Linked DNA regions of Homo sapiens: regions 1, 2 and 3 are each linked to region 4. Evidence: fine-mapped expression QTL. A gene starts in region 4. Each other region holds a variant in brackets. All regions are shown on one strand. Distances are between the middles of the regions.

Region 1 (6,273 bases), 110 kb after region 4:
TTGATGAAGATAGCAACGGAAAACTCAAAATGGTGGCAGTTCTTATTACCAGTTGTTAGTATTGTTTCTGGAAACTGCTTGCCAAGACAACATTTATTAACTGTTAGAACACTTGCTTTATGTTTGTGTGTACATATTTTCCACAAATGTTATAATTTATATAGTGTGGTTGAACAGGATGCAATCTTTTGTTGTCTAAAGGTGCTGCAGTTAAAAAAAAAACAACCTTTTCTTTCAATATGGCATGTAGTGGAGTTTTTTTAACTTTAAAAACATCAAAAATTGTTAAAATCATTGTGTTATCTAGTAGTTTATAATTATCGGCTTATATTTCCCCATGAATGATCAGAACTGACATTTAATTCATGTTTGTCTCGCCATGCTTCTTTACTTTAACATATTTCTTTTGCAGAATGTAAAAGGTAATGATAATTAGTTTATATAAGTGTACTGGCTGTAAATGATGCTAAATATACTTTATGCAATTAAGGGCTTACAGAACATGTTGAAACTTTTTTTACTTTTATTGGGAATAAGGAATGTTTGCACCTCCACATTTTATTGCTTCTGGATGTGAAATCATGTAATTATTTCTGCTGTTATATAAAGTGCCATACTTTTAATAAAGGAAAATGTACATATGAAATCATCGTAATGGGTGTTTCCTGAGAAATAGTTCATTGGAAATCAAACTTAACATCTTAATATTAAGTTTTAATGTGTGTGTATGTGTGTATTTATTGGAAATATTAGGAAAATATTTTCCTGTATATTTTCATGCTGGAATTATAGATTTTTAGGATTAATAGAATATGAAGTGCTTGTTATATACTAGGTTTAGGTGCTCATTGATTTAGTTGAGTTTATGTCACCTTTTTAGGGAATCAGATTAGCTGATATATGTGGTATATATGTGTTTGGAAACAGATACATTAAATATTTTTTTCCTCTAGGTAGAGCTGAATTGATATTTCCATTGCCTCAGGGACAGCTGCATGTCTGGGACTAATTCACACTTTATTACTGACAGATAGGAGTTCTTCATCTTTATAGTTGAGGCACAAGTCTTCAGAGTTAGGCAGATGAGGGCTAAGAGTGCTCTCTGTTCTGGAGCTACCTGAATTCTGTGCCTTCAGCTTTATTTAAAGTACTTGCTACTTCGAAGCTTCAATTCAGCATTTAGATTTTATTGCTTTTGAATATTAAAATTTACACAGAAAACCTCATTTGGCCTTGATAGTTGATCTAGTTGGAGTTTTGTGTTTTTCCAGGCAAAAAAAAACCCCTCATAATTTGATTTTAGAAAGTTAATACAATTATATATAACTTTTTAATGAAGTGCTCCCACCAGGGACAGGCTGTACCTGTAATCAAACGCATTAGTATTTCTGCAGTTAAGGCTATGAGGGTTCACAGTAAATTGAATACACAGACCTGATCAATAGCCTTATGTAATTTGAATCAGCTTTTGCCACCAATAGTTTACAGCAGACTTATTTGAAAATTTTCACTTTTTCAAGCTTTTTAGATACTGAAATTGAGGATAAGGAATTTTGGACCTGAACTATTTTGTTATTTTACGCTTCCTCCACCCTCTTCCATAGTTTGCTTCTTTTAAAAAGAGAAAGGAAGCTGTCTACTGCTGTGTGGATCAGCTGCTCCTGAGTAGCATGCAGTCTAGGAAAGGGATGGAGCAGCTTCTGCACTCGTGAACAGGGTCTTTGCTGCAGAGGCTCCAGGGACAGGGACAGGGCATCCCCAGAGGGATGGCTCGATTGTTCATAGTCTCCGGGAGGAAACAAGTGAAAAACTTGCACCATACAATTCGTTAACGGAGCAGGGAGTGCCGAGAGCCCAAAAATGATTTGGGAAAAATCTTAAAATAGTATTTAACAGAATGAAGAGGAGTTGTTCACAGGTCTGAGTTGTTCACAGGTCTGATTTTGGGATGAGTAGGATTTATTTCTTTCATTGGTGCCAGTTGACATTTTTGGTAGTTTAAATGTTTTGTAGATCTCAAGGATGACATTTATATAGTGCTGGTAGAAAATAGCATATAGAAGCATATTTGAAGTGGAATTTACTATGTGAAGAAGACTGCTAAAGCCAAGTAAGAGGCGATGTTTCAAATCGAAGGGGACACAAAGCTGCATCAGCAGACACAATCTGAAAACCATCGTGCACAAAATTCTGCTCGTTCAGAAGAGCTTCTACCCTCATTCCCTGTTTCCCATAGGAGCACAGACTGAAGTTTTTGGATGACCTAGTGGGGGTTGGCGGGGGGAACCCAACACACATGGCTTGACTCTTCTAATGTGAATTTGACTGCTTTCAGAGAAGGCATCTGTCCATCCTCCTCATGTAGCAGTTATAGAAGTTGGGAGCCTTTAGTTCTGCCTGTGACCAGAGTGGTTTGTGTTTTATTCAGCTGTGAAGTTATTAGGAAGTCCATTTTGCTGCAAACCAGCTATCTTTATCATTATTTTTTATTTTATTTATTTATTTTTTTGAGATGGAGTCTCACTCTGTTGCCCAGGCTGGAGTGCAGTGGCACAATCTCAGCTCATTGCAACCTCCACCTCCTGGGTTCAAGCAAATCTCCTGCCTCAGCCTCCTGAGTAGCTGGGACTACAGGCACCCGCCACCACGCCCAGCTAATTTTTTGTATTTTTAATAGAGATGGGGTTTCACCGTGTTAGCCAGGATGGTCTCGATCTGCTGAGCTCGTGATCTGCCTGCCTCGGCCTGCCAAAGTGCTGGGATTACAGGCGTGAGCCACCGCACCTGGACCACTATCTTTATTATTAAAGCATAATAGTAGTAGATTTTGATCTTCATCTTTTTGACTGTATCTACTTGTCAGTTCATAAACTGGGAAATAAATGAGTGCTATTTTTAGATCCCTAATGTAGCAACACTCAATAGTCTATAGGAGTATCAGTCTATATACCCCGTGATGTACGTTTATAACCATGACTGTATGCCTTCAATGAAAATTTATATGTTTAATAAGACAGATATATGTAATGCATTTTAGAATACAGCTCATCTAAAAGCTTTGATTCTAATGAAGGATAAATTCCTTATTGTGGAGAATGCATTTATCTGTAACAACTTCTTTCAACATTATTCCATATAGCTAAGGATAAAAAAATAGAATTTAAACCTTTTATTCAAAAGGTTCTGTTCTCCACACTTTCTACTTGACTATTTTTATTTACCTCACTTTATCATCTACACACAAATTTTTGGACACATAATATGAGAACCAAGCTAGTTTATAAATGTTTAGTGATCTAGTGATCCCGTGTTTTATCAGCTGGGCTTGAAGACATATTTCGCACAAACAGGGAACAAAATACCAGGAACCATTTACTATGACAATAGGAATGTCACAGTAAGAAAGCAGTTTACTCAGGACTCAACCAAATGGAAAAAGGTAAATATCAATTTATAAGTAAAAGCACCCAACTGCCTGTGAAATGTGAATTACACTGAGTTGAGTTTGCTCTTAACTGCTTGGAAAGCACTGTATTTTTATTTTGCAATTTCAAGTGTTTATGCATTCTGGCCATTTAAACATCAGGGAGTTGTTATGAGCAGGCTATGCTGTTAAATGAACATCTTACTAAGCATTAGGAATAGAGTTCACTTTTGTACTTTCTCTTGATTCTGAGACTATGGAAAATGAATTTGAACTTATATTGATAGTTATTAATATGTCATATCATTAGAAAGTTGCAGTGCTGTTGGTCTCCCTACACCTATTTGAAGATTCTTCTTATAATAAGTAAAACAAAAACAAATGCACCACTTTTTGTGATAGAGGGCATTTTACAAAGTGAGTGGGTGGCCTACACAAAACGAACCTGTCTTCAGAGGTTCAGTGTGTCCTATTTGATTTCTATAGCACCTTACACAGCCAATTGGCACTAAACATGTTCACAAGCTCTGAGTGTCTTGTTTCTATGAAGTTACGTCCAGACTTGTGTCTATCATGTGGAGGCAAGTACCACAGACTAGCCCTTTGATCTTGGTAGAGACAAAACCTCTTTGGGCTTCAGTTTCTTTGTTTGTCAAATAAGTGCTGTACAATTATCACATAGACGGGTGTTTTGGAGACAGCACATGAAACTTTTTCAAAGTGAAAAGAGCTATGTAAATTTAGGGTTACATTTTGGTTTAATTTCAGTAGTTACCATGTGACCTTGTGACTTGTTCTACCTGAGCCTTTGTCACCAGTAACTTGGGGAAAAATAATAGCTACCTCAAAGATTTGTGAGGATTAAAAAAGACACTCTTAAACTGTGAACTCTGAAAAATGAGGTTTTTATTGCTTATTGACTATATACAGAAAGTTTAATTTTGAGTGATTTATTCCTTTAACTACATCTTGAAAACCAGATCAACCTCAAATTCCCTTCAAAACTTGAAAATTTTCTTGTGAAACCTGACTTACTTGCATTAAACTGAAGGGAGGATGTGAGGTTTGAATGCTATAAAGGAAATGCTGTATAGAACTTTGGGGCATTTTAGTACTGAGCAAGGCTACTCTCAACAGGGCATTAGATATCCACAGTGGAGCGTCATACATTAACTCCACACGGCAACTCAACACTCAGTGTGTGCCCACACGGAC[A/G]AGATAGGGGGAGGCGAGGCAGAGAGAATTCGCAATTGTTCCGGTGAAAATTAATCCAGTGGAAAAACACATTGCTTTTCCATTTTGTCAACTTTTGTGTCTCACATCCACGTGCATTTTGAGATCATGTAGTTTTTGTCCAAACACTTTCACTGGCACATAATTTTTTCTGAGTTCCTCTGGAAGCGTTTACTTCCCATCCACGCTGCCTCAGTCTTTCACGATGTGCAGCTGCTCCCTGGGTGTGAGGATCTGGGGCCGGCACTGCACAGCTCACCGAGAGGACGCAGGCAGCTCAGAGGCAGATGTGGTTGTGCTCCTGGCACGTGGTGCTCACACCGGCCACAGACAGGTACAGCTTCCCATCTGGACACACACAGATTTCGTAGAGGCTCTGTGAGCTGCCAGAGGGACCCCACGTCCCCTGCACCAGCTTGGGTAAGCACACAGTTTCAGCATCAAGCACAAGCTGGTTGGGAGAAGATGAGAGACGAAGAGTTAAGGAAGGGCCACCCTGGTCAGCAGCAAATCCCCATTCTCACAAGATTTCCAATTAGTTTCTTCTCCTCATAGAAAACAAAATAGGCACCTGACTTTATGTAACTCATTTCGTAATTATCCGATTCTTTTAAAGCCCAGTTCTATTTTACATGCAGGCTGGGACTTCACAATTCCTTCCACATTGGAGGGAGGCGCTTTTCCGGTTTGTCATTGTTTGAGTGCAGCTGAGAAATGTGGCCCCATTGTGAAAACATGTTTCACCTTTACAGTTTGTTTTTGTTTCAATAAACTGGGTTGCTTTTCAGTTTTGTGATGCTATGCTTCTCAAAACGCCTTTCAGAATTATTTGTCAAACATATTAGAATTCTCCCGATTCACATTTATCTTGTGACTCACTTTGACTTTATGTAAATCCTCTCCTCCCCATTAGGATAAAGTACAATCCATTAGAATAGATTCATCTTAATAATTTTTACCCATGAATGATGAAGTTTATCCTGATTTTATTCCTGATTTTGTTTTCCTATGAGAGGCAATTAAATTCATCCTATTAGCTGGCAACCATTTCCCTAATTTTTATATATTATTTGAAACTGCACAGCCTCCTATTAGATGCTGAAAAGCAGTAGACACGCAGACTAAGCCAATTAAAATGAAATGAAAACTACTGGATATTCTGGTCATATGATAATTTAGTTAAACTGAAGTGCAAACAAAGAGCCGTAGATTGAGGCTTGGAAATCTTTTTGATAAGGAAATAAAAATCGTCACATCCAGCAGCCAAACGTTGCCCACTCCAGGGCACTCACTTGTTACAAGGAATTAAACTGAATGTGGGTAGGCATAATTCTGTCCTTGCCAAGGAGAGCTCCTTCCTTTATGTTATGTGGCTCTTATCCTTGCCTTCCAATCTATTAACAACCTGCTGTCTGCTGCACGCATTCGCCGGTGTGCACCTGCCAGGTGAGGCTTGATCACACGACCCCACAGCATTGCAGGCAGCTCTGTGCCGTGCATGGTCTGGTGCAGTCACGGTCAAAGAAGTCAAATAGCTGTTAATATGTTTTTCAAGTAGAATCTTTAGGTTATTATCTAACGCCTCATTCTTGATTTTTATTTCTGCATTTCTCTGC
Region 2 (8,217 bases), 500 kb before region 4:
TTTTTATTTTCTGGTAGTCTCATAGTTTCAGGACCTACATTGAAGTTATCTTTATTTTGAGTTAATTTTTGTATATGGTAAGATAACGGTCTAGATTGATTCTTCTACATGTGGGTGTTGGGTTTTCCTAGCACAGTTTATTGAAGAGATTGTCCTTCCCAAATGTGTGTTCCTGGTGCCTTTGTTAAAAATGAGTCGACTGTAAATGTGTAAATTTACTTTTGAGTTCTCTATTCTGTTTTATTTGTCTGTCATTTGTCTATGTCTTGTCTGTTGCTCCCTCATTCTTTTTTTTTTTGCCAGCACCATGCTGTTTTGGTTACTATACATTTATAGTATATTTTGAAATCAGGTAGTGTGATGCCTCTAGCTTTTTTCTTTTTATTCAAGATTTTTTTGTCTATCTGAGGTACGTTGCATTTCCGTGTGAATTTTAGGTTTTTTTTTTTCTATTTCTGTGAAGAATGTCTTTTGTAATTTAACATGGGTTGCATTGATCCTGTAGATCACACTGGGTGATATAGATATTTTAACAATATTCTTCTAGTGCATGAACATGAGATATCTTTCCATTTACTTGTGTCTGCTTTACTATCTTTCATCTATGTTTTATGGTTTTCATTGTGGGATCTTTCACCTTTTTGGTTGTTTGTCCTTACGTATCATTTTTTATAATGAAATAGCTTTCTTGATTTCTTTCATAGGTGTTTCACTATTGGTGCATGGGTGTGCTACTCATTTTTGTATGTTGATATTGTATCTTGCAACTTTACTAAATTTATCTAGTAGGTTTTTTTGGTGGAATTTTTAGGGTTCTTTACATATGATCATATCAGCTGCAAACAGAGACAATTTGACTTCCTTTTTTTTTCCAATTTGGATGCCTTTTATTGTATTTTCCTGTCTAATTGCTGTAGCTAGGACTTCCAGCACTATGATGAATGAAAGTGGTAAAAGTAACCACACTTGTTCCAGATCTTAGGAAGAGCTTTTTTAACTTTTCTGCATTGATCATGATGTTAGCTGTGGGTTTATCATATATGGCCTTTATTATGCTGAGATATGTTCCTTCTTGCACATTTTGTTGAGTTTTTATCATAAAGGTACGTTGAATTTTATTGTTTTCATCGTCTACTGAAATGATTATATGTTTTTTTTTTAAATGGAGTCTTACTTTGTTGCCCAGGCTGGAGTGCAGTGGTGCTCTCTCAGCTCCTCAGCTCATTGCAACCTCCACCTCCAACCCCAACCCCCTCAGGTTCAAGCAGTTCTCCTGCCTCAGCCTCCCAAGTAGCTGGGATTACACTGCCATCACGGTGGCCCTGCTTCTTTTTGTGTTTTTAGTGGAGGCAGGGTTTCACCATGTTGACTGGGCCGGTTTCAAGCTACTGACGTCTGGTGGTCCATTTTCCTTCACCTCCCAAAGTGCTGGGATTACAGGCATGAGCCGCCATACCTGGCTCTTTTTTTTTTTTTTTTTTTTGACAGCATCTTGCTCTGTAACACTGGAAGGAAATGGTAAAATCATAGCTCACTGAAGCGACAAGTTCCTTGGGTCAAGTGATCCTCGCATCTCAGCCTTCTGAGTAGATAGAAAAGGTATGAGATATTTAGGAATCTAAAAAATATATGCACAACCTCTATGAGAAATTTCTTAAACTTTGAGAGTTAATAAGATAGACTGTTAAAATGTTAATAGTTTGGGGAAACAATATTACGCCTTCTCTTTCTAAATTATACATTCAGTGCAATTCCAGTCAAAACCCTTGCTTTGTAAACTCAGCGTTTTGACTATAAAATGTATGTGAAGTTCTTTCCTCCTTTATCTTCCTGAATATTTCAGCTCACAAGTATGGGGACAAAACAGGGAATTGTGTTGACCCAGAGTTAGGGATTGTGGCATGAATTAAATGCGAAGGGCCTAAGTGTCAGAGTGTCACCCTGCACAGTGCTGGAAGACAGTTGAGAGCATTTCTGCAAGGTAGACAAAAGAAATTGAGGTATCAAAGACTGAACAATATCAGGAGCCACCCACAGATGGATGAAAAATGGGTCTTCAGCATCTTAGGGGGGTAAGGATAAGTCATCTACCTAAGAGGGCAGCCTGGGACAGGGTGTTTGAGGAAGGATGGGGTGAAGATGGCATCCATTTGGAAGGAAAATTGGTGGAGGCAACCAATGAAAGGTGCAAGAGTCCCAAGTGGGAGTGAAGAGTATACCTACGTAGGAGCAAGGACACAGGAGATTGGTTACACACAGGAGATGAAATGAATAAATAACAGCAAGTCCTGGAATAATGTCATTTTGTTATAACATTGATGACAAAAATATATATACTGGCCAAAGCCACTGTGTGTATGGAGTTTACACGTTTTCCCCATGTCTGCCTGGGTTTTCTCCAGATACTCTGGTTTCCTCCCACATCCCAAAACTGGGCACAGGTTAACTGACATGTCTAAATGGTCCCAGTGTGAGTGACTGCGGGTGTGTGTGAGTGCACTGTACAATAGCATGTCCAGAGTTGGTTCCCACCTGGGGCCCTGAGCCACTAGATAGGTTCCAGTCCTCTGCTACCCTGAACTGGAATAAGCATGTTGGACAAGGAACAAATAAATGAGTGCAAATTACTATAAAATAAAAATTTGTGAAGTCCATGATAATCACAGATGTTGCAATACACAACGATTTGGTACAAAAGTGCTTCATGAACCTGCCATATTTGTGATTGGTTCTGACTGCATGGAGGTAGGAGGTGATTCTTACAAAATGCACCTTGCCAGCATTCATTTCTTGATTTAACCCACTGCCACTACAATCGCCATCACTCACTGATTCACCAAAAATTGGATGAATGGTATCTATTACTCTTCCTTAAATGTATGCAGAGCTAGCATTCATTTTAATGTTTAATATTACAAGTGTTTTTGTCTGTATTGACATGTTTGGTGATGTTTTTTGGCCAGAAATGTGTCATAGGAACAGATCTTTTGTTTATATCAGTTAGCCTACAGTTAAAACTGGTTTCGTTTCACATCTTCCACTTATTTTCCAAGAAGACCTATTAAATCATGTTAAGTGAGGACTTACTATATACTAAGGATGAAGGGAGCCAGGTTGTGTCAGAAAAGGGAATTACAAATATAGTTGACCCTTGAACAACATGGTTTGAACTGCATGAGTCTACTTACAAGCAGCTTTTTATTTCAATAAATAGACTGAAATTTTTTTTGGAGATTTGTGACAATTTGAAACAGCTTATAGATGAGCTGCATAGCCTAGAGATAAACAAGTTAAGAAAAAGTTATGTCATGAATGCATAATATATATGTAGATACTCATGTATTTCATCATTACTACCATAAAATATATATAATCTATTATAAAAAATACGATTTATTAAAATTTACACATGGTATGTGGCACCATTCACAGCCAAGAGAAAGGTAAACAAACAAAGATGCAGCATTAAACCATAACTGCGTAAAATTAACTATAGTGTACACTGTACTACTGGAATGATTTCATAGCCACCTGTGGTACTGCAGTGAGCAGAACTGTTGCAAGTATTTCCTTAAAATGCTTTGTGATGCTAATCATCTCCACATGAGCAGTTCATCCATCCAAGAAATTGTGTCTCATGGGAAAAAGTGATGATTTATGGTTCTTACATATTTTTCATTGTTTTTAATGCAATACTGTGGAGTCAAATAACACCACGGGACCCATACAGAGTGCCACCATTGATGCTGGAAGGCTCCCAAGAAGTAAAGAAGTCATGACATTGTATTAAAAAGTCTGAAATTGTCAAAATATAACATTTCTTAAAAGAAAAGTTTTTTAAAAATTAACAAATTATACACTATTGGAGAAAATAACCCATGAATCCTTATTGATACAAGTAAATGAATAAATTGAAGGTTTTATGAGGAAGAGATACTTACGTAGTTTCAAATTACCTCCCCACAAGATATTAATTAACAGGACAAATCAAAATTGTAGGACACATGGTAAGATGCAGTGAGACGATTACAGGATCACTTCTGTGATACACTTTACCAAAAATGTAAAATCTCTTTGTACCCCAGACCTCAGCATGATGCAATATACTCATGTAACAAAGCTGCACATGTACTCCCTGGAACTAAAAGTTGAATTTTTTAAAAAGTATAATTTAAATCTAATCACAATGAAACATCAGATAAACCCAATTGTCGAACATTCTACATTACTGGACTTTACTCTTTGAAAGATTCAAGGTCATAAGGTCAAGGGAAAACTGAGGAACTGCTCCAGACGAAGTCTAAGAGACAGAAGAACTAAATGCAATCCACGGGTCTGAATGCATTAAGTAATTTTTCTTAAAATTGTTGCATATTTTCGGCCAGGCGCGGTGGCTCACGCCTGTAATCCCAGCAGTTTGGGAGACCGAGGCGGGAGGATCACCTGAGGTCAGGAGTTTGAGACCAG[C/T]CTGACCAACATGGTGAAACTCTGTCTCTACTAAAAATACAAAATGAGCTGGGCATGGTGGCGCACACCTATAATCCCAGCTACTTCGGAGGTTGAGGCAGGAGAATCACTTGAGCCCGGGAGGCAGAGGTTGCAGTGAGCTGAGATCCAGCCATTGCACTCCAGCCTGGTCAAAACGAGTGAAACTCCATCTCAAAAAAAAAAAAAATTGTTGCATATTCTCATGATGCTTTTCAAACTTGATTTAGATGTAACTCATCAGCAGATCCTGAGTAGATCCTGCAGAAGAGGATAGATTCCATATAGAGGACTCAGATTCAAATTCAGCAGCACCTGGAAGGAAAATGAAAGAATGATGTTCTTTACCTAAAATATTTCACAGTTAGCTAAGTGTCAGTCAGTAAAAAAAAAGTTGAGAAATTTATCTGTGTCAATAGGAAGGAAAAATATGTATGACCACAATACAAAATTAACTATTTAATATTGAATATAATCTGCCCGTAGGTGTGCTTTGAATTGACTATCACTGTGGTTAAGTACCAGAGCTTCTAGTTTTCTCACCCTTCATTCCTGTATTCAGCAACCATGTGACAATAAGCACTGGAATGACAAGATGAAGATGATCAGTTCACTCCTCAAAAATCATATGCTACAACTTGAAAAAACAAACAGGCAATTTCCTTACAGAATCATAGATAACATGACAGGTATACAACACGACACTATTGGAACACACAGAAGGGACACCTATCCCAGTTTTGTGTCAATATTGCAATATTGCAGGCTTTTTGGTGGAGGCACTATATAGGTTCATATCTGAAAAACAAGGAAAAAGTATGACAGAGGGCAGAAGCAAATGCAAAGAGATGAGCAAGAGCACTGTGGAAATCTATGTAGTCTAGTTTGGCTGGATGCTAGAGCACAAGGGTAGAGTAGGGTATGTGGCAAAAGACAAGGCTGAATAACTTGACAAGAACCAAGTTGATGGAGATGTTTTCACTGCATGCCAAGCAACTTAGAGCATTTCCTGAGCACAAAAGTAAACCAATGACAAAGTAAATAATTGGAGATTTAGAATGTCATCTGTCAAATAACTGTTTTTGAACTGTAATTGCTTGGCTAAGTATTATCAGATGACTCTGGTCTTTTGGCCTTAAATTACTACTATGACTTTAAGAAGATGACGACTTTGTTTCCTGAATTCAGTTTCAGCGTGCTGCCTGACAGTTCCATAGGGATGGCAGAAGTGAAGACTATGTAGAGCCAAAACAAAAGAGATACTTAGACTTTTTGAGACCTTTTTAAAGCTATGGAACATGATAAATTAATGAGGCAAAAGTATACTCTTCATTATGAGTATGTGTTTCTATCTTTCATTAAATGTGCATAAGAAAAAATACTTACTGTAGCATTTATGAACCAGACAATGGAGAGGAAAGCCATTTGCTATTTACAGTTTATTTCAGTAATCAAGCTAAATTTAGTTAATAAATTTTGGCAATATACCTTCTTCTATTTCTCTAGTTTTATTTTCTATCAATCCTTGCTGAATCTGAAATAAGCCAAATATTTATAATGTTTAAGTTACACAAGAGAAATTACCATGGAAATGATATATCACTTACAAAATGTCATCTCTCCTACTTGTAGAGACGAGACCTAACTTGAGGATTGCCTAAATAGAAAAATTAACTACATAAATAAAATAAAATTCCTACTTATTTTAAGTTTAGATAAAAGAGAATATATATGTGTAATGCTGTTGACATTAGTCTGATAAAAGTTACAATTAACCTTGGTCTACTGAATGTACATCTTTCAGAAGAGTGAGGTTTTCTTTTACTAGTTACAAAGGTTAAGCAAATCGACTCATAGTTTGCAACAAATGCATTATTTTCTAATTCTTAGCAAAACTCTGCCTGCCCTTTATAAGAATTCAATCTGTGTTTTCTTTTCATTTTGGTAGATTTCTCCTTAAAATAAACTTTCCGTTCTCCTCCTTTAGAAAATTAAAATTTTAGATACATTCCATGTTATTAACTTTTCAGGACAGAATCTTAAATATGTACCTGAAGAAAGTGGTACTGTCATAATATGTGAAAATTCTACTGGTAAAATATTAAGTAATCATATTATTCTATCTGTATTACAACTAACATTTTTATTCATATGGAAAAAAAGATTTTGGAAATTTCACTTGAAAAAAATATATATTAGAACCAGTTTACAAACTTGGTTTATTTCATGACCTGTTAGAATTAGAAACAAAGAAACAATATATAGCTCTATATTTGTATATAGCTCTTTTAAGCTTTTCAGAAATTAGAACCAATTTTTGAAACATCTAGCTAACTATAGTTATCTACTTAGTTATGAAATTGTGGGGATACTTCAAATTATATTGCAAGTGTCTCCCATCTAGTGTTTTATTTAAATCTTTGGTGCAAAAGGTATTCCCTCACTGAATGCCCAGAAAAGAATCTGAAATTGTTTACTAAACATAAGACTTTTTGGTGATAATGACAATATGATATACAATGCCTTTACAAATTTTTGACTAATAGCTTTCCCAATATTTTGAGAGACAGTTTTCCATAATCTTTCTGTGATTATAACATTATAGACAGCCCTTATAAAATTAATGACATGACAATGGCATTACAAGAAAGGTTTTATAAAAGTAATAACTCGACCAGGCGTGGTGGCTCATGCCTGTAATCCCAGCACTTTGGGAGGCCAAGGCAGGCAGATCACGAGATCAGGAGATCGAGACCATCCTGGCTAACACGGTGAAATCCCCTCTCTACCAAAAATACAAAAAATTAGGGCATGGTGGCGGGCGCCTGTAGTCCGAGCTACTTGGGAGGCTGAGGCAGGAGAATGGCGTGAACCCGGGAGGCGGAGCTTGCAGTGAGCGGAGATGGCGCCACTGCACTCCAGCCTGGGCGACAGAGCGAGACTCCGTCTCAAAAAAAAAAAAAAGTGATAACTCAATACCAGGTAAAGGGAGAAGCCTTTATTGAAAGAATGTTATATTATCATTAATGAACACTATGTAAAATGTACATTTTTACATGACTTGTATGTAATATACATATATGTATATGTATTTTATATGTATACATATGAAACGTATATATATGCACATAAAATATGAAATATGTATATATGCACATAAAATATGAAATATGTATATATACACACATATAAAATATATACACATATAAAATGTGTGTATATATATAATTCCTTCATGTAGCTTTTTACAAATAAAAGTTTTATTCTAAAAAAATTTTCAGTTATGAAAGTCATTTAGTCAAACTTTTTAATTTTACGTACAAGGTAACACAGTCTCAGAGAGATTATAGCTTGCCTATGGTCATTAAGCCCATTAGCTCCAACCCAAGAAAGGGCTTTAAGTTTTCTTACTGAACTTGAAGTTTATGCCAGCTACTTCCTGCGTATTCAGGAAAAATGTATAGATTTTTAAATATAACTCAGGGAAAATGCATATGTAAAACTGTCATGTAACTCAATCACGTTTGGGTAAGAGACATAAAAGGTAGTTCTCTAGCTAAGTTATGATTTCTGAAGTCATGAATAAAAATTAACAAACAACTGTTAATACATCTTTGTTAGTTGCAGTCACTACTCAATTTATTTTGTAAAGAACAAAAATATTTTACAGAAAAGGGAACTTGAAGGAGGAAAACTTCAGTTGAACCAGGCAAGCTGAATTAGAGAAATTCA
Region 3 (8,217 bases), 81 kb after region 4:
GCTTTTATCTTGTCAGGAGCCACCTGGCCTGATTTCATTCATGGGGGTGCGACTCTGTGCCTTGGGAGCAGGGTTGAGCATTCCCTAGACCCCACTGTCCATGGATTTAGCCATGTGGTTGGTGGACATAACATTTGCTAACTTAAAATACCCACAAGCTTGGGAGTTGGTGATTGTGACAGCTGAAGCTGTGCTTGACGACCGTAGGTATTAAAGATTGACTTCACTGGAGTTGCATCTTGCAGGAAACCCAGGTGCTAAGTAAGCATGTGAGGCAAGCATACATCACATCACCCTTGGGAGATCTTCACCAAAGCACACTGGGGAGGAATTTCTCTCATCACAGTGGGTCTCACACATCTGGTTTTTCTGCCAGTTTTTGAATACTACTCTGTCCTTGGTTGAGGAACAGGTGAAGCAGCTGGTATCAATTTAGAGGCCATGTTATACAAAAGATGGGTATCTTTCAATACTGTAATTAGGCTCCACGTGGTGAGATGCTCCCAGCAAGAGAAGTGCTTCCGCTCCAGAGGCAGAGAGGTTAAGACCCCTTGAGGGAATGTACCTCATGAGCTTCAGGGCAGGCACTCACTGAGCAACACAGTGGGCAGAGTCACCTGCATTGTACTGCTCTCTGTCTCTTCTTACAGAGTCTATGCTGAATTTGTAAAGTTGAGCATAGGATGCAGTCCTGTTCTGTCGAATTGGGCTCACATGGTGGTGGGGGTTAAGTGTATATATCCAAATACTCTGCCCATCTTTTGTGTAGTGAGTTTTTGAAGATGTCTCCTAGGTTTTCACAGTAATCATGCAAAGTCTCTATGCCTGGCATTTGTTATTGGATTGAATCAAAAGAGAAATCATTTTTCATGTTCAGAGAATTACATTTCTGAAGGTAAATTAAGTTTGTGTTTAGATAAATCTGTTTTAGTCATTTAATGGCTCATGCTTTTTCATATATTTATTATAATTGTAATCATAATTGTCCCTAAAATTTCAGAGTTGATCATGACTTAAATTTTTCTTTACAGATGTTCCTTGTATCTTTAGTGGTGACCAAATCGGGATGCTAGATCCTCATCAAACACTTTTTGGCCCACATGAATCAGGCCAATGTTGGAATCTCAAAGATGACAGCAAAGAAATTAGTGAACTTTCAGACCAGTTTGCACCATTTGTTGGCATTTTTGGAAGCACCAAGGAAACATTTATAAACGGCAATTTTCCAGGAACATTTTTCCGTTTCCCTCTTCGCCTACAACCTTCACAACTTAGTAGTAACCTCTACAATAAGCAGAAGGTTCTTGAGTTGTTTGAGTCTTTTAGGGCAGATGCAGACACAGTGCTGCTCTTTCTGAAAAGTGTGCAGGATGTTTCCTTATATGTCCGAGAGGCTGACGGAACAGAGAAACTGGTGTTTAGAGTGACTTCGAGTGAGAGTAAGGCACTGAAACATGAGCGGCCGAATTCTATAAAGATTCTGGGAACTGCTATAAGTAACTATTGTAAAAAGACTCCAAGCAATAACATCACCTGTGTAACATATCACGTAAATATTGTTTTAGAAGAGGAGAGTACTAAGGATGCACAGAAAACATCTTGGTTGGTGTGTAACAGTGTGGGTGGGCGAGGGATCAGTAGTAAGCTTGACTCTTTAGCTGATGAACTGAAATTTGTCCCAATCATTGGAATAGCCATGCCTTTATCAAGCAGAGATGATGAAGCAAAAGGAGCAACGTCTGATTTCTCAGGAAAAGCATTTTGTTTCCTTCCTTTACCACCTGGTGAGGAAAGCAGCACAGGCCTCCCAGTTCACATCAGTGGGTTCTTTGGCCTTACTGATAACCGCAGGAGCATAAAATGGAGAGAGCTGGACCAGTGGAGAGACCCGGCAGCCTTATGGAATGAGTTTCTTGTCATGAATGTTGTCCCCAAAGCTTATGCTACTCTGATCTTAGATTCAATAAAACGTCTGGAGATGGAAAAGAGCTCTGATTTCCCCTTGTCAGTTGATGTTATCTATAAGCTTTGGCCGGAGGCGAGCAAAGTCAAGGTGCACTGGCAACCGGTGTTAGAGCCTCTATTCAGCGAGCTGTTGCAGAATGCAGTGATTTATTCAATTAGCTGTGACTGGGTCAGGTTGGAGCAGGTGTACTTCTCAGAACTTGATGAAAATTTAGAATACACAAAAACTGTGCTCAACTACCTCCAGAGCTCAGGGAAGCAGATTGCCAAGGTACCAGGGAATGTGGATGCTGCTGTTCAGCTCACAGCTGCCTCTGGCACAACACCTGTGAGGAAGGTGACGCCCGCGTGGGTGCGGCAGGTGCTGCGGAAGTGTGCACACCTGGGCTGTGCTGAAGAAAAGCTTCACCTTCTAGAATTTGTGCTTTCTGACCAAGCCTACAGTGAGCTGCTTGGGCTGGAGCTGCTCCCTTTACAAAATGGCAATTTTGTCCCCTTCTCCTCATCTGTATCAGACCAAGATGTCATTTATATTACCTCAGCAGAATATCCAAGGTAGGGGTCCCCCTTCTAACATTCCTGTTCACTCTTAGGGTTCCCCTGCTCCTGCTCACTGTGAGAGTCCTTTGTTGTGAAATTCAATGGTTTTCTATGTCGATTTTATAGTTAGGAAGACTTTTGCAGAAATACATTGTTAAAATACCAAAGGATACATTTTATATTCTAAAATGAAAAAGTATTCAAATGTTTATCAGTTGAAAAGTTATCTAAGCAGCTGTTTTTCTTGGAAATTTCAATAGCAGAACACTGAAAACAATGTTTATAAAGTGCAAATAATAACAAGGCCAGATTAGTCACTAATGAATTATTTTGATAATATTTAAATTCATGAAAAATAGTATATTAAGTAATTCTTTATAAACGAGAGTGTACTGACATTTCAGGAAATAAAATTAATTTTACTGTAAGATGTTGAGAATATTTCTGAATTTGAGTAAAGTACATGATGCCTTCACGTTTTAAAGCAAAGTCTAGATAATATTTGATCAAAAATATTGTAATTTGATTTGATGTGTGCATTATAATTTATGTAAAATAAAATAGTCGGCTTAACTGACTTGAAAATATGTGATTGTTTTTTTAAAATCTTGGAATTGTGGGAAGATTATGATGATTGCTGTTCCTTTCCCTTTTCAGGTCCCTTTTCCCAAGTCTTGAAGGAAGATTTATTTTGGATAACTTGAAACCTCACCTTGTGGCTGCTTTAAAGGAAGCTGCCCAAACCCGAGGTATTATAGTTTAGTATTCTTTTAAATAAACTTCTATATAAAAATACAAGTTTTTTAAAAGTTTTCTGTTATTCATTTTAGACCTATAAATCAACAATTTCTTATGGCTCAAGCTAATAAACTTTTTGTGTTTTAAGATATTTCAGTTGCCAGAATGGCATCTAAGAGATGCTGTCTAAAAGAATCCAGAGGTGATAAGTGTAAAAATCTCTCCTGTCATGGTGTGATGGTGTAGTCAACATCTTATACCTGCATGGTGCTTTACAGTTTTCCAGTGCTTTCCCATTTCTTTTTTCATTTGAGCCTCCCAGCATAACTTGTAGCTTGTTTGGTAATGACAGTGATTATTAAATTTCACAGAAGAGGAGAGAGAAAGGTTAAGATCAAGACCACCAGCCAAGTGCCGAGAGGTCAGGTCTTCCACTTGCCCTGTCCTTGCTCTATTTCTGACACCACTGCCCCTCCATGGTTTTATGTAGTTATGATGCTGGGTTTGCATTAGGCTTGATCAGCTTCTGGGAAGTGTGGACAAATCCAATTAACTCTGTAACAGGGGCAGGAAAAGGGTCTTGCGGGGGTCTTAAAGTGATGGGTGTCTGATAGGTGTCCTTTTAGGAAAAGACAGTAATTTTGGGAAAACAGTCAACATGGTTCTAATTTTAATACTACCTTTCAACTTCTGCAAGCATCCTTTTCCTTGTGAAACTGTTACCTGAGCTTTTTCTAAGTGAGATGTTGTCCTGAAAAGTTCTGGGTTTGTCCTGCTGTTCACATTGTCAAGCATACTCTGTGATGTGTCTTTTATGGAATGTACTTTTTTCTTGTCCAGGATAATGGCTTAGGGAAAGTTGCTAATCATTGTACACCTTTATTCATTAAAATATAAGTGAAATGAGTTGGAATGGGAGAGGCAAGTTAGGTTGGAGTTAAAGTGAGAGTAAAAGAAAATGAGTAGGCAAATGTTGTTTCCCATCAGGGATTTGCATCTATGAGTTGGTAGCTGTGAGACTGACTTTTCAAACGTCTGAGTTACTCATTTAATTGTAATTGTCATCTTCAAAACAACCTTTTTGAAAGTCTAAGCCTGGATTCCTATAAGCCTGCCAATCTTTGCTCTAACGATTTGGAACTCCTTTTTTTTTAATGTTGTATTATATTTTTGTTAAAATTTTGTGTTGAAATATAAGATGCATATAGAACAGTGCACATATCATAAATGTAGGCTTAGTGAAATTTTACCATCTGAACATACCCATGTAAACCTAGATCAGAA[C/T]GCAGAAGATTACCAGAAGATTACACAGAAGATTACCAGCCCCAAAAGCCCCTCTCTTGCCTTTTTCAGTCTGACCATTCCAGGGTAGCCATGACACTGGCTTTAACAGCATAGATTCACTTTGCTAGTTAATCATGCTTTGTATAGAAGGAGCCATGTGGCATATATTCTGCGTCTGGCTTTTATTTGCTGTGATGCTGGTGAGATTCATCCAGATTGTTGCATGGAGCTGTTAACAGTTCTTTCTGATTGTTACGGTATTTTACTGTGTGGTTTATTACTTTCTTTTAAAGAAAATATTTTTGTTGGTGGCAGATCCTTTCTAAGGTGGATGTGGATTTGGAAATCGGCCAAAAGTTATTCAGGGCCAAATCAGGTGAGAAGGGTAGAAGGTCAGCAGAGCATTCTGTTTTTGCTCAGCATTTTCCAAATATCTTGTGGCACAGAGTGTGGCTACAACTTGCTTCTCTAGCCCTGGGTGGATGGGGCAAACCTGTTATATTTTTAGGGATGAGTTAAATGTATAAATTAATATAGAAAACTTGACATCTTTCAAAGTTGCATTTTCCCACTTTTATATGTCTTCATTTTCTCTACTATGGATTCAAGTTGTTATTTTGGTGTCATAATGAAACACTGTGTTTTGTCTCTGGTCTTGGTTAGTTTTCTTGGCATTGTGACACTAGATGTTCATCTAGTGTTTCTGTTAATCACACATCATGTGTGGGTTAGCACTCCCAGAAATTGTCTTGATGGTCACTTTTCTTTATCTAGATTTAAGAGTTAGGCTACTATTTTCATGATTATTTAATAACCCTCATAACTAGCTGTATTAGTCTGTTTTCATGCTGCTGATAAAAACATACTTGAGACTGGGTAATTTGTAAATAAAAAGAAGTTTAATGGACTCACAGTTCCACATGGCTGGGGAGACCTTAGAATCATGGCAGAAGGCTAAAGCCACATCTTACTTGGCGGCAGGCAAAAAGAGAAGGAAAGCCAAGAGAAGGGGGTTTTCCCTTATAAAACTATCAGCTCTTGAGACTTAGTCAGTACCATGAGAACAGTATTCGCTACCACGAGAACACCACCCCTATGATTCAATTATCTCCCACCGGGTCCTTCCCACAACACATGGGAATTATGGGAGTTACAAGTCAAGATGAGATTTGGGTGGGGACACAGCCAAACCATATCACTAGCCTTTAAACTTTTTTAAACCAGTCATATGGGTATCTTCCCACTTATTTTTATCTGTGTGTTCCAGACAAAAATTAGTTTTTGATATAACTTTATTGCCATTAATGGTTTTAATGTTTTGAGAGCATGATGATATAGGGCCTTACGGGGAACCAGTAAGTGACACCTTGCTTTCCTTTCCTGAGTTGTGAGTCAGTGAAGACATAGTGAAGACATAGCAGAGGGATTGAGCAGATGGATGTCAGAAGCCACCTCTGTCACTGATTATTGTGATATTGGAGATTATAGCTGTGGCAGGCATTGGATTTCTATTGACTCCCAGAGTGAAATGGATTAGCTCACCAGTCTAGTCACAGGTAGCCCTGGAAAGCCACAGACTTCCTTCCAGAGGTCCTGCCCCTACTAAACATCTGTCCCTTTGAGTCCTGCTGAGCATGTGCAGATGCTTTTTCTCAACTTACCAATCATGTAAGTCATCTTGCTTTCTGGTGGTATGGGGCCTATTGGGGGAATTAGTGAGTACAGGAGAAGAAAGGCGGAGTATTATGTTTATGGAGCCCCCTTCATATATGGTAGGGAGCATCACAGACATGTAACTACATTTGATATTTTTTGCTCTACATAATGATTACTCCATTGCTTTGCTGACACAGAGCACTATGGAATTCTGTTTATGAGTGATCAGTAAACACTGATTGGCCAGTCTTGGAAGTACTACTGCATAAAATGGAAACATCATATGTTTTTTCTGATATGGAAACTTTTCCTCTAATTCTGTAGCTCAAACAAAATTTGTCACATTATTTAATAATTGTACCTTTTCCTTGTATTACATTTAAAATCCTTAGCTAAATATTGAGCTACTGCTTGTATTTTTAGTGTTTACTTCTACTGCCCCTTTTATTAGCAGTTAAATATGTTTCACTATATTTCATTTCAGGAAAAACAAAACAGACCTCCACCTTGATTTTCTTTCTTGTATTCTATCATAGTCCAGCTTCCGGAAAGAGTTGTCTTATTGTCTGTACTTCCTCCTTATTTATTATCACTCCAAACAGACTTTTGCTTCCACTGTCATTCCACTAAAATAGTCTGGCTGACGTCACTAGTTAATGATTTTTCTGTTACTCAGCTCAGTGGATTTTTCTGTTTCTTTTACCTGATCTCCCAGAAGCTTGGTATTCCTCTTTGAAGCCCTCAGCCATGATGATACCATTCCTTCTTGGCATTCACTGATTTTGCCTGCTTCTCAGAATTATTTGTGAACCTCTGTTCCTCACTTCACTCCCTAAATACGTGTTAGTGTGGGGGCTCCTTCCTCAGCTCTTTTACTTTGTTCCTTTCCTTGAATACATTCATCCACTCCCATGAAAGTGTTAGTGACCACCATATCTTCAGTCACCACCCTAGTCTTCAGAGAGGTAGTGTAGCAGAGATTAAAAACCTGGATTTTGTAGTTACCCAGATCTGGGCTTAAACTTCACTCCTCTATTGTGTGACTTTGAACAAATTTTCTACCCTCTCTGAGCCCCTGTTTCCTCATCAGTAACATGGTAATACAGTACTATCCTTCTAAGGGTATATCTCAAGGTCCCCAGGATTTGATTACAGAAAATTCAGGATTGCTTCACTGCAAGGATAATGAAATAAGGATTGAGCAGAGGATGGGAGCAACCACACCTTGCCAGTTGAGTTGTATCCAAGTTTGTGTTATTGCAGCAGATCAGGTTATTGAAAGCTTCATTGTAATATTTTACTCACAGCAGGCATTATGCTGAAGATCGAATGATGAATACGTAATACATATAGTTTAACATAATATCCGGCACTTAATATAATACTGACAAATGGTAGCTATTGTTAGCATTTTGCACTTGGAATCCCATAAGTATTTCAAAATCAATATTGCAAAACTTTAGTCTTCATCCTCTCCCCAAATCTGTTTCTCATTTTGAGTGATCCCACTGAAAATAACACTACTGTCCACAAGATTGCTCAAGAATGAATCCTTAAATTTTCTTCTTTGTTCCCCACAGTCTCCAGGATCTGTTGACTAAATTTTCTGTGCCAGTCCCTTGGTCTTACTCCACTGCCTATTACAGGTCCTCTAATTTCTCGTAATGTTGTTACTGGACTCTTGCAGTTGATGTCCCTGTCTACAGCGCTTGGGCTTCATCTGATCATGTCACCCTCCTGCTGCAGGTTTTCCAGTGGACATTGAATCTATCAGGATAAATCTAGCCCTGCTAGCATGAACTAGGGGACTTTCCATGATTGTAAACTTCCATGATTTTGGAGTGCTGTCTCACTGGCCTTGGTGCATGCAAGCGCCCTCTTCTGTTCTAATTGCCCTCTTCTGTTCTAATTATACAAGCACTTGTAGGTTGATGAACTTGAATCCTCCCTATATTTCATGAGAGCAGAGAGACCTGTCAGATTTGTTACCACCATCTAGCACAGTGCCTACTTCAGTGTAGGTGCTCAGTATTT
Region 4 (8,217 bases):
ATTACTGATGATGAACATTTTTCATTCATTTTTAGCTTTTGATTTAAAGCGAGAGATATGTGATTATTTCTTTCACTTGAACACTTAGAGGCCACTGTAGTGTTATTCACAGGCATAATTTCAATATTGTTGTGCCTCAGGGAATAGGGAAGCCTGAGTGGGAGCGAGAGAGAGAGGCAGAGAGAGAGGAGGGGAGAGACAGAGAGAGAGAAACAGTGAACAGCTGGTCAGTGGAGCAGTCAGAACACACAACATTTGTCAATTAAATTCACCGTCTTATATGGATGCCACTTGTGGAGCCCCAAGACAATTACGATAGCAACATCAAAGATCACTGATCACAGATTACCATAACAGATATAATAATCAGAGCTTGAAATATTGTGAGAATTACCAAAATGTGACACAGAAACACAAACTAAGCACGTGCTGTTGGAAAAATGGCTCCAATAGTCTTACTCAAGGCAGGATTGTCATGAACCTTCAATTTGTAAGAAACATAGAATCTGCATTGTGCAATAAAGTGATATGCAATAAAACGAGGTATGCTTCTATTCCCATTTCACAGATGAAAAAACTGAAGGTCAAAAATCATGTGACTTTCCCAGACAGTTCCTGGTTTGTAGATATTTAATCTCTATAATCCCTGACAAGAGCAATCATTACTATTGAGCATGCTGGCATGATGTGCCAGTGAGTTAGTAAAACCGGTGATATTGGTCAGGGTTCTCTAGAGGGACAGAATTAATAGGATAGATGTATATATAAAAGGGAACTTATTAAGGAGTATTGACTCACACGATCACAAAGTGAGGTCCCACAATAGGCCATCTGCAAGCTGAGGAGCAAGGAAGCCAGTCCGAGTCCCAAAACCTCAAAAGTAGGGAAGCCAACAGTGCGTAGACTCCTGGTCTTTGGTCTGTGGCCAAAGGTCCAAGAGTCCCAAAGCTGAAGAACTTGGGGTTCAATATTCATGGGTAGGAAGCATTCAGCACTGGAGAAAGATGTAGGCTAGAAGACTAAGCCAGTCTAATCTTTCCACATTCCTCTGCCTGCTTTTATCCTAGCTACTCTGGCAGCTAATTAGACTGTGCCCACCCAGATTGACGGTGGATCTGCCTCTGCCACTGACTAAAATGTTAATCTCCTTTGGCAACACCCTCACAGACACACCCAGGAACAATACTTTGCAGCCTTCAATCCAATCAAGTTGACACTCAATATTAACCATCACAGATACAGAAGCTAAGACTCCAAAACTATGACTAGATGCCGAGACTTAGCTTGTATCATTCAGGTTGAGCTGCTAACCTTTCTGAGTTGATAAAATCTGACCCTCATACAGATTGAGGAAGAGGCCAAGAAAACCATGTGGTCTCCAGGCCACATGTGAGCAGAGCTTTGGCCACGTGATATGGCTGGAACGAAAGACTGGCACGGTAGGAGCAGCAGCTGGGAGGATCCAGGGGAAGGAGTCAGCATATTGCAGCAGCTCTTTGAAACCTCTGGACAAGTGGCAGAGACTCATCCTCTAGCTGCACTTTTGTGGTTCTGGACAGCCGTGGCACCAGGTCATATTTTCTCATGTTCTAGGCTCAGCTTAGGGTAAGGTGGAGACATTGACTTAGGGTTCTCCAGAGAAACAGAACTAAAGATATTTATAGATATGTAAGAAGGGATTTATTATGGAAATTGGCTCATGTGCTTGTGGAAGCCAGTAAGTCTCCTGATCTGCCATCTGCAAGCTGGAGAACAAGGAAAGCTGTTGGTGTGATTCAGTCTGAGTCTGACTGCCTGAGAACCAGGCGAGCTGATGGTGTAAATCCTAGTAGAAGGCCAAAGGCCTGAGAATGAGGTGGGGTGCTGGTGTAAGTCCTGGAGTCTGAAGATCTGAGAACCAGGACCTCTGATGTCCAAGGTAGGAGAAGATGGGATGTACCAGCTCAAGGAGAGAGAGGGAGAGAATTTGTTCTTCCTCTGACTTTTGGTTCTCTATCTGGGCCCTCATGTGGGATGATGTCCGTCTACATGGGTGACAGCAGAGCTTCTTTACCCAGTCTAGTAATTCAAACGCTAGTCTCTTTGGCAGACACCCTCACAGACACACCCAGAGAGGATGCTTTACCAGCTATCTGGGTATTCCTTAGCCCAGTCAAGTTGACACCTAAAATTAACCATCACAGACAGATTGACCTCTGACTTGGGTATGTTAACGGTCAATCTTTGCCCAGAATGTGGAAGATCTGTGGTTCATGAATTATCCAGAAATCTTTGCTTTCTTAAATTTTTAGGACAAAGTCTAAATCTTTTGACAACAACATTCCAATAGCATAAATGGCACCATAAGTGTAAATGAACTCATATGGTTTATTTCATGTGCCATTGTATCTGGACAGTGGCATAGTGAAGGGCTTGCAATGCACATGAAATCACCTTCCAAATGTGTAGAAAGTCACATATAAACACATGCAATTTGTTGTAACAGTAACAAGGTGTATCACAGGCAGTGCTCACAAGGGTATTTAAGCTTTGACTTCTACATTGCAACACTATTTTTTGTCTTTTTTTTTTTTAATTTTAGAGATGAGGTCTACTCTGTCGCCCAGGCTGGTGTGCAGTGGTGCAATCATAGCTCACTGTAACCTTAAACTCCTGGGCTCAAGTGATCCTCCCACCTCAGTCTCCCGAGTAGCTAGGACTGCAGGCATGCACGACCAATGCCTGCTTAATTTTTTAATTTTTGTAGAGATGAAGTCTTGCTATGTTTGTTTTTGTTTTTTTGGGACAGGGTCTCACTCTGTTGTTTAGGTTGGAGTGCAGTGGCACAATCTCAGCTCACTGCAACCTCTGCCTCCCAGGTGCAAGCAATTCTCCTGCCTTAGCCTCCAAGTATCTGAGATTACAGGTGCACACCACTGCACCCAGCTAATTTTTGTATTTTTAGTAGAGATGGGGTTTCATCATGTTGGCCAGGCTGGTCTTGAACTCCTGGCCTCAAGTGATCCACCCACCTCGGCCTCCCAAAGTGTTGGGATTACAGGCGTGAGCCATTGCGCCCAACCTGAGGTCTTGCTATGTTGCTCAGGCTGGTCTCAAACTCCCGGCCTCAAGCAATCCTCCTTCCTCAGCCTCCTGAGTTGCTAGGACTACAGGCATGTACCACCACACCTGGCTAAGCAACACTATTTCTGAATAATCAATATTTCACTGGATACTTTTATGTAGTGTGAGTAGGTAGGCAAAATCGTCTAACCTCTCTGAAAACTATACATATATATTATATATATAGTTTATATATATGTAGTTATTTATAACTTTTCCCTTTGGGGGTGTAATGGTTTACAGCTGTGAGTAGAAGAGCCTGCTGGGGGAGCAACATACTGGGTATTCACCGTTTAGTCTACGGTGTCTAGCTGATGCCAGGAACAAGCAAGGGCTCAATATTTGTGTGCTGAATTAAACTGATTACAACTGAACCATGTAAGAATGGTGGTAGCCTCAGAGAGGCAGCCTCACTCCACAGGCGCATGCCACCGAGGGCCTGTTGGTCCACACGGTGCTACAGTGAGAGCTCAATGAAAAGGCCCTGCAAGACACCATTTCTCCCCAATAGAAATGTGCTTTGTTTGTGATTATTCAGTCCTTTTGTTAGAACAGGTCTCCCACCTATCTCCCAGGAAATAATATGTACACAAATCTGTGAGTCTAGGATGTGAAGGAGACACCATTAGATGTGGCATCTTCTGGGTCAGACCAGTGCAGGGCCAGGTACAAGAAGCAGGGGCTCTCCTTCCCCAGTTGCTGCTGACATTTGGGGCTTGCTTTGGTCTTCTCCCAGGAGAGATCATTTGAGCCTTTTCAGGTCTGGAGTTGTTTGAACTGACTTAAGAGGAATTTTCCGCAGGAACGAAGCAATAAGAAGCTTCCGAGATCCAGTATTTCCAGATAAGCCAAAATTCTAGATTTATATGGATAAAGCAGGCAGTTCTACTAGGAGACTATCATGAGGAATATGATGTACCCAGGCCAGTGGCAGGATAGCTGTGCGCCGAAATGAAATAAATGCTGGTGGTATTTCACATACCCCATCAGAGGAAGCAAGAAAATAGAGTTACAATATTTTGTATTATTAAATTGAGACTAGCAATTTCAACTTAGAACAGGATCAATTGTATAGCATTTCACAGTTTACCACACATTTTGAGTGAATGCTTTTTTTTTTAACCATTGGAACCTCATAAACAACTCCAAATAACATACAAAAAGCAGATTGTGAGCTACAACATTACCAGGTCACAGGTCTTCATTTCCCATGAGGTACTCGAGACCCATGAGTGACTTGTCTAAGGTCACACAACTGGTGTTTAATAGAGCCAGTCTTCTGTTAGCCATACCTACTGCTAAAAATTAGCCTTTGCAAGTGAAGAGAACAAAAACGTGTGGTTGGTTGTCACCCCCACAATGAACGACAATGCTGCACTTGCAGCATTATTGACACCTAAGGTTGATGACAGTCCTGTCTCTTTAAGAAGAAAAAAAAAGGCTGCTGGGTAGGGGGAGCGACTGACTGCGGCAGGAGCCGCCTGGACCCAGTGCGGCTGCGGGACAGTCACGCTGGGAACTGCTGATGGCACTGGAGGAAAACAAAGGCCGAGAGACCCTGATGCCCACAGCCCCCAGTAAGTCCAAGGTTCCAGCTGGGTGGCCAGCGAGGGCAGCTGCAGGAGCGGCCTGGGGACGGGCAGGCTCCATGGTGTTGTTGGCCATCCGTCCCCTGAGCCTTGGGAAACCAGGGCTCGGCCACTGCAGCTGCTTGGGGGAGGTAAGGGGCCACTTTCCTTTAACATACCCGCCTTCGGAGAGGACAGAGACGAGAGGGCCTTCAGCGTGCTGTACAGCTGTGAGTAATGAGCTCTTCTGAAAATGTACAGTTTGGGTTGGCTGCTTGTGAATTTGTGGGTGAGGAGCGGCTGCAGGGTGACTAGAGAGATCTGCCGCGGTCAAGATGCTGGACTAGCCGCTTTGTCATTTTAATTTCCACCCGGGTTGCCAGGCACCGCCACAATGGAGCTGTTGCAGTAACACAGCGTGGGGTCCAGAGTCTTATTGAACAATAAGATGGGATTCTCAAAGTAGCTTACGGTTAATTTGCAGAATTGCTCTCACTTTAAACAGCATGCCTTCAAACAATGCCATATGTTATGGTTATCTTATATAATATTTGAAAATCCTGCTTTTAGTTAAAAAATATTTCACATATTTAATTTTATTCTAATAAGCGATCATTAGATTCTTTGAAAGAGTATTCCAGCTTTAGCAACAAAACCTCTCTCTCGCTGTCTTTTTTTCTTCCTTAAAACGAGGTCAATACCTCAGAGAAGAGGACTGGATTTGTTTCTATTAAAACATATCAATTGTTTTGGCTTTAATCTTAATTCTCTCTGCCCCTGAAGATGGATAAAGCCCATTCCGCTTAAGTAAAAGGCAGAAGCCAGGTTGAATCCACGTGCTTCCCAAGCGCAAGCTGCTCTGAAGTTATTTTGAAGGGGAACTCTTCATTTCTCCATCAGTGCAGATAAAAGTAATTGATTCACAGGTCATGGATGAAAATAATAATAATAATAATAAATAATTGACAATCCCATTTTATTTGTCACATGACAAGTAGATTTGCCATTCTGTTTTTCTTAAGCTGCCCATTGATAACCAGACTCATTCTACGTTAATGCAGGGTCATGATGTCCCAGTAGTTTTACTTATGACCATCCAGACTGCCTTCCCTAATCTTGCCCTGAAGCCTCACTTTGGGCTGTGACAACGATCCCCAGTTTCCTTTCCTCTATCCTCCTTAGCCGTCCCTTTCATCCTTTCTTCTCCTTCCTGGGCTGTTTGGGCAATTTTTTCTTTCTTTTCTCCTTGGATCTTAAAGACTCCTTCAGTCTCCCTTTCAAACAAAGCAAGCCAGATTTTCTACATACCCTATTTTCCTTTAATCTTACTTGGTTTATAAGAACTTTTCCACGATTAAGTGTTTTCTATTCTTCACATAATAGGAAGAAAAGTCCAATTATAGAACTTGAAGACCAAGGTTTGCTTACATCTGAAGCATCTCAAAACCATTGCTTTACGCAGGACTTGCCCCCAGAAGCCCCGGGTTCCAATCTCAGGTCTACCACATCCTTACTCTGCAGCCCCTGACAATCCACATAACTTCTGTGAGCCTCAGTTCCCTCCTGTGTCAGAGATGACACAATTATTCACTTAATGGTCACAGGGTTGAAACCAGGTGATTTGTATGAAGGCGCCTAGCAGGGTTCTTCACACAGTGTCACTATTTAGTAAGAGTTTTGTCGTTTTCTCACTCAGTCCACCATCTACCTAACCACCATGGTGAAGCATGCTAAAGTGGTTCATGCACCATTTCCCAAAAGGAATAAATTTTGAAATGAACTTTTGGCTGAGTGCATCTGAATGAGTCCTGATCAGTACAAAATACATATTCAGTTCTTGCTATGCACGAAACACTGTTCTAAGCCCTCTTGTCTATAAAAGGAACGCTGATGTTTCCATGTTGCCATAGGAGTATTCTTTGGAAGAAGGAAGGCCGATTCTCTTTGTACAACTCTTCCTAAATCCTTTAAGACAGCAGCAGTGATGATGATATTGACCACTCCCACCATGAGCCTACATGAGGACTACTAAATGTGATTGATGCAGAGGATGCCAAATTGGAAGTCAGGACAATTCCCATTGCTATTCTGATCTTGGACAGCCTGGGTGGCAATTTGCTCTTTGCAATGACAATCCTGTTACTATTTTAATTTCTACTTTATGTGTCTTTCTCCTGCCGTCTTTCCTTTCCTTAACTCACACTCAGGATATTGTGTAAGATTTTAACGTCTAGGAGAGGCCGTTTCACCCCTACCTAAGGGGGAACATAGCGAAGTTGGGAAAAGCACTGGATTGGGGACCAAAGGGTGTGGCTCCAGCCCTGCTTTGACTTCTCTTTGTGCTAATTAGAAAGCCTTTTAACGCCATCTCTAAGGCAAGAGACATAGAATAATCTTTCAATTTCCTTCAGGTTCTGACTAGATGATTCAGATAGCTCTCTTTGGGGTAGCCTCAGTTTACAACAATTATTTGATCAAATTAAATGCTTTTATCTCATTGATTCTTACAATAGCCTTATGAAACAGGCAGCCCCATTTTGCAGATTACAAAATGCAACCTTAAGAGAGAGTAGAACCCCAAGTATTTCTTATTAGTAAAAGGAGAGACTGACTAGATGGTAAGACTCGATTCCCTTGGGGAGCATCACTGAGTTCTCAGACTGAACTCTGAGCTCTGTTCCTACCATGGTATCCCCCTCAAGGCACTTCAAATTGACGACGATGTGAAACCCAAGGTGACACGTTGGTTCTGGGTTTTGTCAGGAGAGATCTGTGGTCCAATTATAATAACCTTACATCCAGACAAACATTTGTTTTAAATATTCTGCTCGAGATTACACCATGAGTTTGTCATCTGGGGCAGAAAATAAGGGCTCTACAGTCCACATAGCCTTTTAATGTGTTCTGAAATGACATTTAAAAATAAATCAAAGCCATCCTAATATAATTATTGGTGATCATTTAAATCCTTACCTCATTAAAGTACTAAGTGCTAGAAAGGAGTATTTGAATTCTATACGTATCTAGAATTTGTGCACATTTTCACATAGTACTACTTTAGCCTTTTTCCTTGTTTTTAATGCAATGATAAATTTCACCATTTAAAAACCCTGATAGGATTACAAGATTAAATACAAAAAATATTGCATAAGACATAAACATACTAAAAAATAATTCGTGGTTTATCTGAAACTCAAACTTAAGGTGTATATGTTTATATTTATAATTTTTATTTGCTAAATTTGGCAATATGATATAAACAGAGCTTTACTTGATCAATGATAGTTACTTAGAGCTTAAGGATATTAGTTTGTTAGGTCTTTAAGCTTCAAACATAAATTACAACCAATCTTTATGAGTTTTTTGTCAATTACACCAAATATTCCTTTAGTTTTATTTATTAATTTTTTTTTTTTGAGATGTTGTCTAACTCTGTCACCCAGGCTGGAGGCCAGTGGTGCAATCTCGGCTCACTGCAACCTCCACTTCCCGGGTTCCAGTGATTCTCCTGCCTCAGCCTCTCGAGTGGCTGGGATTACAAGTGACT

Which allele goes with the higher level. Positions count from the first base shown, and alleles are read on the strand shown. Sizes are in standard deviations (SD) of each study's normalised expression. Not every link is listed here.
For the expression in skeletal muscle of the gene that starts at base 4,592 in region 4, allele A in region 1 goes with a lower level than allele G (small effect, 0.30 SD a copy in GTEx).

The links. PIP is the estimated chance that this variant, and not a neighbour inherited with it, causes the effect.
Region 1: its variant is the best candidate, but not a certain one, in a credible set for the expression of SACS in skeletal muscle (GTEx, PIP 0.62).
Region 2: its variant is the best candidate, but not a certain one, in a credible set for the expression of SACS in cerebellum (GTEx, PIP 0.88).
Region 3: its variant is the best candidate, but not a certain one, in a credible set for the expression of SACS in whole blood (TOPMed, PIP 0.88).

What each region holds. Positions count from the first base shown.
Region 1 is chr13:23,323,203-23,329,475 of GRCh38, reverse strand. It overlaps SGCG (sarcoglycan gamma), which reads right to left. Exons shown (of 8, transcript NM_000231.3): 8 at 4,314-5,108. The coding sequence ends at 4,935. LOC107984585 (a long non-coding RNA gene) reads left to right here and starts at 5,103. Exons shown (of 2, transcript XR_001749787.2): 1 at 5,103-6,273. It overlaps SACS (sacsin molecular chaperone), which reads left to right. Exons shown (of 10, transcript NM_014363.6): 10 at 1-646. The variant A/G (reference allele first, on the strand shown) is at 4,640.
Region 2 is chr13:23,930,096-23,938,312 of GRCh38, reverse strand. It overlaps the pseudogene ANKRD20A19P. Among named protein-coding and RNA genes, the nearest start is that of C1QTNF9B, 37 kb to the right of the region's middle. The variant C/T (reference allele first, on the strand shown) is at 4,468.
Region 3 is chr13:23,348,822-23,357,038 of GRCh38, reverse strand. It overlaps SACS (sacsin molecular chaperone), which reads left to right. Exons shown (of 10, transcript NM_014363.6): 8 at 1,032-2,520; 9 at 3,163-3,254. Among named protein-coding and RNA genes, the nearest start is that of SACS-AS1, 66 kb to the left of the region's middle. The variant C/T (reference allele first, on the strand shown) is at 4,528.
Region 4 is chr13:23,430,077-23,438,293 of GRCh38, reverse strand. It overlaps SACS (sacsin molecular chaperone), which reads left to right and starts at 4,592. Exons shown (of 10, transcript NM_014363.6): 1 at 4,592-4,679. RefSeq lists an enhancer at 4,773-5,340.